Linked DNA regions of Homo sapiens: region 1 is linked to region 2. Evidence: fine-mapped expression QTL. A gene starts in region 2. The other region holds a variant in brackets. All regions are shown on one strand. Distances are between the middles of the regions. Region 1 overlaps TOLLIP (toll interacting protein). Region 2 holds the start of TOLLIP-DT (TOLLIP divergent transcript).

Evidence for each region.
Region 1: its variant is fine-mapped to the expression of TOLLIP-DT in testis (GTEx, PIP 0.98).

Annotation. Positions count from the first base shown.
Region 1 is chr11:1,285,997-1,290,307 of GRCh38, forward strand. TOLLIP (toll interacting protein) reads right to left here. Exons shown (of 6, transcript NM_019009.4): 3 at 4,231-4,311; 4 at 2,628-2,780; 5 at 6-96. Among named protein-coding and RNA genes, the nearest start is that of TOLLIP, 21 kb to the right of the region's middle. The variant G/T (reference allele first, on the strand shown) is at 2,221.
Region 2 is chr11:1,307,899-1,312,273 of GRCh38, forward strand. It overlaps TOLLIP-DT (TOLLIP divergent transcript), which reads left to right and starts at 1,810. Exons shown (of 1, transcript NR_029409.1): 1 at 1,810-2,809. It overlaps TOLLIP (toll interacting protein), which reads right to left and starts at 1,734. Exons shown (of 6, transcript NM_019009.4): 1 at 1,568-1,734. The coding sequence starts at 1,600. RefSeq lists silencers at 1,190-1,899, 3,425-3,554 and an enhancer at 2,130-2,891.

The DNA of each region.
Region 1 (4,311 bases), 22 kb before region 2:
CGCACCTGTGATGGGCACATAGCCAACGCCCTGCTGGTACACTGTTGGCATCAGGACCACGGGCTGGGGTGGCATCACCATGGCAGCTGGAAGCAGCTGAAACACAGCGGAGATGGTCCCGGGGTCAAGGAGGAACATCCACCCATCAGAACCTCGGGAATCGCCCTCCCCACAATTGCCCTCCCCACGCCAGCCCAGAATCGCCCTCCCCATGCCAGCCCAGAATCACCCTCGCTACACGAGCCCTGAGTGCACAGGGGACGCTGGGCCCTGCTCCCACCCCTGCACCACCTCCTCAAATCCAGGAGGTGACATGGCTCGGGCTTACAGACCCCCTTCTAACTGGGATGTGACTGAGAGAGGATGGTGACAGGAGGGACATCCCAGTGTAGGTGTCGAGTCGGCCTGGGGGGAACCACACTGCACTGCTGTGGTGTCTGAGTTTGAAAGTGTCAACTTCACATAAGTCACTGCACTGCTGTCAACTCTGAGTTCAAAACTGTCCACTGTGGATAAGTCACTGCACCACTGTCACCTCTGAGTTCAAAACTGTCAACTGCGGATAAGTCACTGCACCGCTGTCGTCTCTGAGTTTAGTTCAAAACTGTCCACTGCGGATAAGTCACTGCACTGCTGTCTCCTGAGTTCAAAACTGTCAACTGTGGATAAGTCACTGCACCGCTGTCATCTCTAAGTTTAGTTCAAAACTGTCCACTGTGGATAAGTCACTGCACTGCTGTCTCCTGAGTTCAAAACTGTCCACTGCGGATAAGTCATTGCACTGCTGTTGTCTCTGAGTTCAAAACTGTCAACCGTGGATAAGTCACTGCACTGCTGTCGTCTCTGAGTTTAGTTCAAAACTGTCCACTGCAGATAAGTCACTGCACTGCTGTCTCCTGAGTTCAAAACTGTCCACTGCGGATAAGTCACTGCACTGCTGTTGTCTCTGAGTTCAAAACTGTCAACTGTGGATAAGTCACTGCACCGCGGTTGTCTCTGAGTTCGAAACTGTCAGCTGCGGATAAGTCACTGCACCACTGTCGCCTCTGAGTTCAAAACTGTCAGCTGCGGATAAGTCACTGCACCGCTGCCGTCTCTGAGTTCAAAACTGTCAGCTGTGGATAAGTCACTGCACCGCTGTCTTCTGAGTTCGAAACTGTCAACTGCGGATAAGTCACTGCACCACTGTCGTCTCTGAGTTCGAAACTGTCAACTGCAGGTAAAATCACTGGAGCGTCATGATGGTTCTGTGTTTGTATGAAAGCGTCTGTTAAAGACGTGTCATGAGACATTTACACATCGTCACTCACGGCCGGGACATGATTTAAAATATCCCAGCTTTAACAAAAAGGGGGTGGGAGGAGCCAAGATGGCCCAGAAAAGCAGCTCCCTGCTGCTGCCTCCCCGCCGCAGCCTCCCCGCCGCACCCTCCCCGCCGCAGCCTCCCCGCCGCACCCTCCCCGCCGCAGCCTCCCCGCCGCACCCTCCCCGCCGCACCCTCCCCGCCGCAGCCTCCCCGCCGCAGCCTCCCCGCCGCAGCCTCACCGCCGCAGCCTCCCCGCCGCAGCCTCCCCGCCGCACCCTCCCCGCCGCAGCCTCCCCGCCGCACCCTCCCCGCCGCAGCCTCCCCGCCGCAGCCTCCCCGCCGCACCCTCCCCGCCGCAGCCTCCCCGCCGCACCCTCCCCGCCGCAGCCTCCCCGCCGCAGCCTCCCCGCTGCACCCTCTCTGCCGCAGCCTCCCCGCCGCAGCCTCCCCGCCGCACCCTCCCCGCCGCAGCCTCCCCGCCGCACCCTCCCTGCCGCAGCCTCCCCGCCGCAGCCTCCCCGCCGCACCCTCCCCGCCGCAGCCTCCCTGCCGCACCCTCTCTGCTGCAGCCTCCCTGCTGCACCCTCCCTGCTGCACCCTCTCTGCTGCACCCTCTCTGCTGTCACATCTGCCTGGCATTTCCCACAGCACCATTTTTCAGTAACAGCCTGAAAATCCTCTGGTTGATGATACAGACGAGACGGCAGGAGCTCTGCGTCTTGGAGCCTCTAACTGGCCCTCCTGATGCCCCCAGGAGCTGCAGGTGCCCTGAGAATGGAGATGGCTGGGAGCCAGGGCGCTGACGTGCTGGCCCCACAGCCAGGCCTCGACTTCCTGACCCTGAGCACAGCAGCCCCCAGGCTTCCCCGACATCTCCAGAGATGCCCTGCCACACCACGGCCAATGCCTGCCCT[G/T]TGGGGAGGAGCCTGGTGTCCTGCAGGGCCCAGGGCTGTATCTCAGACCCTGGAGGGCTGCTCAGCTGGACCCTAAGGGCAGAGCTTGGAAGGGCTGTGGGGGTCCTCCGAGGACACAGGGGCCTGCAGTGGAGACCACCACAAAGGGTTGGCTCATCTTAGGAACACAAACAACCCCTATGCTGTTTCCCCAGACAGAGAACATGGGCAGGAGCAGTGGGCAGGGCAGCCCCTCTCTGCCACCAAACCACCCAGGGCCCCTGCCCTCTGTCCTCAGAACGTGAGCCCTGCTGTTTTATGGGCTCAGTGCCTCCAGGAAAGAGACAAGGGTGTCTGTGGGGCGGCATAGCCCCGACGTGCTCCAACATACCCCAATGCGCCCCACCCCGCCCAGGCGTGCAGCTCACCGCGTAGGACATGACGAGGTTGATCATGCCCTCCTTGTCGTCCCCCTGCCTCCCGCTCAGGCTGTACCACTTGTCCTCCACCTTGCCCTGCCTCAGGGACTCCGGGATGGTGATGTGGGTCCAGGCAATGCGGTCGTCCATGGAGAAGGCTCTCTGCGGGAGACAAGAGGGAGAGGCCCCAGGCATCAGGGAAGGGGCCACCCTGCCCCTGCAGCCGCACCATCGTGGGCCCGCCTCGAGTCCCCGTCTTATCTGTGGAACAGGGCTCCCACCTGCACCAACACCCCATCGATGAGACCCCTCGGGCAGCGCAGGCTTCACGATCGTATATCAGCCTCCGTAGGGGACTTCTTCCCTCTCTCCACCAGGATGGGCCAGGGCCAGGGCCAGGGCCAGGTCTGGGGCTGGGGAAAGCGAGGGCCCTGGGCTGCTGTCCTCCTTCAGTTCCACTTCAGGGACACTGGCTGCTCCTCCCCAGCCCTCGGGGCCCCATCCTTGCTCCACCGGCTGCCACCTGTCAAGCCCCAGAGCAGCCGGGGTGCAGACTGGAAAGGACACGGGGTCTGCCTCCCACAGCTGACTCTGCACTTCCCATGCGCTCTCTACTCTTCTGAGGGCCAGGGAGGGGAAAGCAGGTAGGGACGGGGAGAGAAAAGCCGGGAGGAAAAGGCAGGGCCCAGGCAGGGAGGGCTGGCCGTCTGCTGGCCTGGCTGCCCCACACTGCTCCCCGGCCCCCACCCAGTCTCTAGCCTCACAATGCCACAGGTGCGAGGTGCCAGGACCACACTGAGCAGCAGCCTCGCCACATCCCCTCTGACCTTCTGACTCTGCCTCAGAAGCGCTGCAGGTGCAGCCACGGACGGGACTCAGGACCCTCAAGGGTCACGACCATTCGCACCACCAAGAACAGCTTTCCCACCCAGTAGGCAGCCGCACTCTCTGGAAATCCCACCTGCTGGTGAGCGGCCGGACCCTGTGCGCCCAGCGGGGCGGACACATGCACGCTCTGTCCCTGGAAATCCCACCTGCTGGTGAGCGGCCAGACGAGTGCCCAGTGGACACGTGCACACTCTGTCCCTGGAAATCCCACCTGCTGGTGTGCGGCAAGACCCTGTGCGCCCAGCGGGGCGGACACATGCATGCTCTGTCCCTGGAAATCCCACCTGCTGGTGAGCGGCCAGACGAGTGCCCAGTGGCGGGGGACACATGCATGCTCTGTCCCTGGAAATCCCACCTGCTGGTGAGCGGCCAGATCAGTGCCCAGCGGAGGGGACACGTGCACGCTCTGTCCCTGGAAATCCCACCTGCTGGTGAGCGGCCAGACCCTGTGCGCCCAGCGGAGGGGACACGTGCACGCTGTATCCCTGGGTCATGCTTGTCACTGGGGATGTTTCCAAATGTAAGTATGTTCAAGGAGCTGGAAACAATCCCTTTTTCACATTCCTTGGGGAGAGCAGGACCCTGTCATGCACCCAATGAAACACCAGGTGGGGAGCCACGCCTCGAAGCCAGCCAGGAACGTGGCTGTGTTGGCAGGTGTGTCCCCACGGCAGCCACGCTCAGCCACGTGCAGCCTCCATAATAGCTGGCACGTCCCTCTCACCTCATCGAAGATCTCGAGATAGAAAGAGTCCACGCCTGGGGGCACCGTGCAGTGGATGACCTTATTCCAGCGGGGATTCTT
Region 2 (4,375 bases):
AAAATGTTCTACCTGAAGAATTATCTCCTCGGGAGAAACACCAGGACTTGTGGATACAGTGTTAAGGGTGGGGAGCCCTGGTGACCCCTCCACCACGTCCAGTACTGGGCTGCGCGAGGGCAGGGACCTTGGAGCATCGTGAAAAAGGACTTTTTCCACCCACGGCATGTTCAGAGCCACTGTTGATAAAAACTGTACCGCTCACGACAGCCTGCCCCAGCCCAGCCTCAGTGAGTGACACGGTTTGAATCTGTGTCCCCGCCAAATCTCACGCTGAATTATGATCCCCAATGTTGGAGGTGGGGCCTGGCAGGGTGGGTGTGTGGGTCACAGGGACAGATCCCTCGTGGCTTGGTGCTGTCCCGGTGATAGTGAGTTCTCACAAGATCTGGTCATTACAGTGTGTGGCACCTCCCCACCCCCAACTCTCTTGCTGCTTTCGCCATGTGACGTGTAAGCTCCCACTTGGCCTTCCGCCATGACTGGGAGCTTCCAGAGGCCTCCCCAGGAGCAGATGCCGGCACCATGCTACCTGTACAGCCTGCAGAACCGGGAGCCAATTAAATCTCTTTTCTTACAAATTACCCAGTCTCGGTATTCCTTTACAGCAATGCAAGAAGGCCCTAACAGTGAGCCAGGAGGCCACTCACGCCAGGAGCCCATCATCTCTGAGTCAGTCTACACCAGCTCTCCTGCAATATTAATGCTATAGAAGAAACTGCCAGGCAACTCTCAGGAGAGAATTCAGAGCAGGAAAGGTTCTCTGAAGTTCCTGGCGCCTATCCTCTCATTTGCAAATGAAGAAACTGAGGTTTTGCACGGTGGCCACTAACCGGGGACACAATTGGGCCCAAGAAGTGGTCACCACTGCCCTCACTCTGTGTAAATGAGAAAGAGGAAACAGCCATCATCTATGGGACCAACTAGAGTGCAGGCCCGCCTCCACCTGGGGGGCCATCAGGGTGCGGGACCCGCCTCCACCTGGGGGGGCCATCAGGGTGCGGGGCCCGCCTCCATCTAGGGTGCCATCAGGGTGCGGGACCCGCCTCCACCTGGGGGGCCATCAGGGAGCAGGGCCCGCATCCATCTAGGGGACCATTAGGGTTCAGGGCCCGCCTCCACCTGGGGGACCATTAGGGTGCGGGGCCCTCCTCCATTCGGGAGTCAGAGCTCGGGGCCGCCTCCATCTGGGCACCGGGCCCTCCTCCATCTGGAGACCATTGGGGAGCGGGGCCTGCCTCCCTCTGGGGCACCATGGGGCACGGGGCCCGCCTCCATCTGGGGCTCACAACGGGCGCAGGCCCCCTCCCCCGGGGCTGCCTCCCCAAAGCTCTGCCCCGGCACGGCGGTGAGCTCAAGCCTCCTGCAGCGTGGGCGCGTCCGTCCGGCCCGCCCCGCCCCGAGGTGTGGACGCCGCCGCTCCCCTCCGGCCGGCCAGGCGCCCCGCGTGCCCCGGGAGAGCCGCGGAGTCGGCCCGCCAGCCGCAGCTGAGCAGTAGCCCTGACCCAAGGCCCCGCCCGCAACCGCAGGTCACCGCCCCCGCCCGACCCTCGCCCGGCTGCCTCACCGGCCCGCGCTGAGTGCTGACGGTGGTCGCCATGGTGCTGCGGCGGCCCCCGTGGCTCGCCGACCCGACAGTGACGCGCCGGGCGACCTCCTGCGCCCCCGCCGGAGCCTGCGACGGAGACAGTTGTCACCTCGAGGCCGCCGCCGCCACAGTCAGCTGACAGCCGCCGCGCCCCGCCCCCGGCACCGCCCCACTGCGCAGGCGCCGCGCCAGGCACCGCCCCTTCCGGCTCTCGCGCGCACGCGCGCTCCAGGGTAGGGCAGGCGCAGCCTCTCGCCCGGCGCCTGCGCACCTGCTCTCTCCTCGAGCCCTGCAGCCCGGCGAAATGGCTCCCGGCGGGGCCGTTTGCGCATGCCCAGTCATGACGGTTGTCGGCGCGGGCCCTAGCGTGGCGGCGCTGCAGTCTGGGCAGTGGGTTGGTTCCTCCTCGGTCCTCTGTCGAGTGGCGACAGGGCCTAGCCACCTGGCGGGGGTGACCTTCGGACGTGCGACCCGCTCGGAGAAGGGAGGGAACTGTGGCCCGCAACAAAGCAGTGACAGGCCCGACATCCCCTGCAGGGCGATCTTTCCCTCAGCTGCCTGCCGGAGGAAGGGCCTTTCTGTTTCACAGGGCTAAAGATGGGGCGCGGTTCCTCCACGGGGCGGCTGCCGGGTGAACGGAACGGGGATGGAGGCGCTGCCAGAAGAGCCCGAGCTCGAGCCCGCCCTGCCCTCGGCCTCCCCGCCGCGCCGCTCCGCAGGAGCCCCGCTCCTCTCCTGCTCGCTCCGGAGAACCCCAGTCCGGCCTGACCTCGGCCCTCGCGGTCAGGCGCTCCAACCAGAGCGACTCCAGCTCGAACAGCGCTGGGTAAACTGAGGCTGAACCCCGCTGGCTGCATCCCCAGGAGTCGGGCGTTTACGGTCACGGGAACAGGTTAATAAACTTTTACGCAGCAGACCCGGAACTTAGGTCCCGATGTCCGGGTATCTTAAGAACAAGAAGCATTCTTAGTTGAAGTTTCGCTTTAAAGATAATGATACAGATGCTTGCGGAGGACAGGCGTTATGCAAAGATTGGCAATCCTTTGACGAGCCCAGGTAGTACAGCACGTCTCCCCCGTGATGTTTTTTGGCTTTTATCTTACATATAAACAAGCGTACCCAGGTGGACGCCTTCCTCCTCGTGCTTTTGGGAACACCCTGCTCTATGGAGTAGCCATTCTTTTATTCCTTCACTGCCTTAATAAACTTGCTTTCACTTTACTCTGTGGACTGGCCTGGAATTCTTTCTTCCACAAGATCCACGAATCCTCTTTTGGGGTCTGGATCAGGACCCTTTTCCGGTAACACAACCACTCCACTAAAAACTCTTTGTCAGTGATCTCTATATTGTTAGTGGTCAGTTCTCAGTCCTCGTCCTCCGGGAACTACAGCAAAATCGATAGTCATTCTTGCTACACATGCTTTCTTCACTCCCCATCCAGGACACCATGTGCTCTCACTTTCCTCTTATCCCAAAGACCACATCTTTGGGTCTCGGTTACCAGTCTCTCCTTTTAAAACCGGCAGCCTGGCCGCTTGCCTGTTTTGATGGGGTGTAGAGAAAAAGAACGAAAGCCCCTTCCTCAAGTTGTAGCTTAACATCCAGCCAATCCACAGCACAAGACCCAAGAAGCTATTAACCACAAGTTCCTGCTTTGGGGGCCTAGGGACTTCCCCGGGCCCCACATGTGCAGTTAGACTTATACTTCAACTATTGTTACCCCTTCCTCATTTTCACGCTAAAAATCACACCTAGGGGTAGAGATTTAAAATGTGAATGTTGCATGCAATGCATGAAGAAGCATGCAAAGCTACTGAGAAGCACTAGACAAACCCCTCCTATCCATGCCTGGACCAATCCCTTCCCTGTGAAACTAACCCACGTGCCACCCCCTGGCGGCGGGGCCCCCCACCGTTTTCCTTTCATGGTGCTGACTTCCTTGTGCACAAGCTAAATAAAGATTTCTCTTTCTCCTCGCTGCTATGTCTGCTGATCTCTCTTTATTTCTATCCTGGGAGATTACAAGATGCCAGGGCACACTGGTAACACTTTGACTCCTTAACATCGGAGTGCCTTACCTCAGGGCTCAGTCCTTGCACATCTTTTCTATCTACATCCTCAGTGAGCTCATCCAGTTCCATTCCTTTAAATGCCATCCATATGCTGATGATCCTAAAATCTGTATCTCCCACCAGGACCTCCGCTAAACACTAGATTCAGCTCTTGCCTTAATATTATTCCCCTATGGGGTGGACAGGTTGTAAGGTAGACATATGATCCCTGCCTCCTGGTGTTCACATCCTTGAATAATCCTCTTGTCTTGAGGGTGGACAGAGCCTGTGGCTTGCTTTTAAACAACAGAATATGGCAGTGGTGATGGGATGTCCCTCCCATGATTACCTGATGTTATAAAAGACTCCATCTTGCTCTCAGACTTATTCTCAAGGGTCTCTCAGCTGCTGGCTTTGAAGAGGCGAGGTGCCATAATTCCTACAACTTCAAGGAAACAAATTCTGCCAGGAATCTGAGGGGGCTTTGATCCTTCCCCAGTCAAGCCTCCAGATGAGAATGCAACCCAGCTGACAACTTAATTATAGCCTCGTAAGACCCAAGAATAAGCCAGCTAAGCTGTGCCTGAACTCCTACCCCACAAAAACTCTGAGATAAGTGTGTGTTGTTTTAAGCCACTAAGCTTACAGCCACGTGATCTGACTTAAGCATTATTAGAATTCCAGAAGAAAAAAGGAGAATGAGGCAGAAAATCTGAAGAAATAATGGCCAATAAT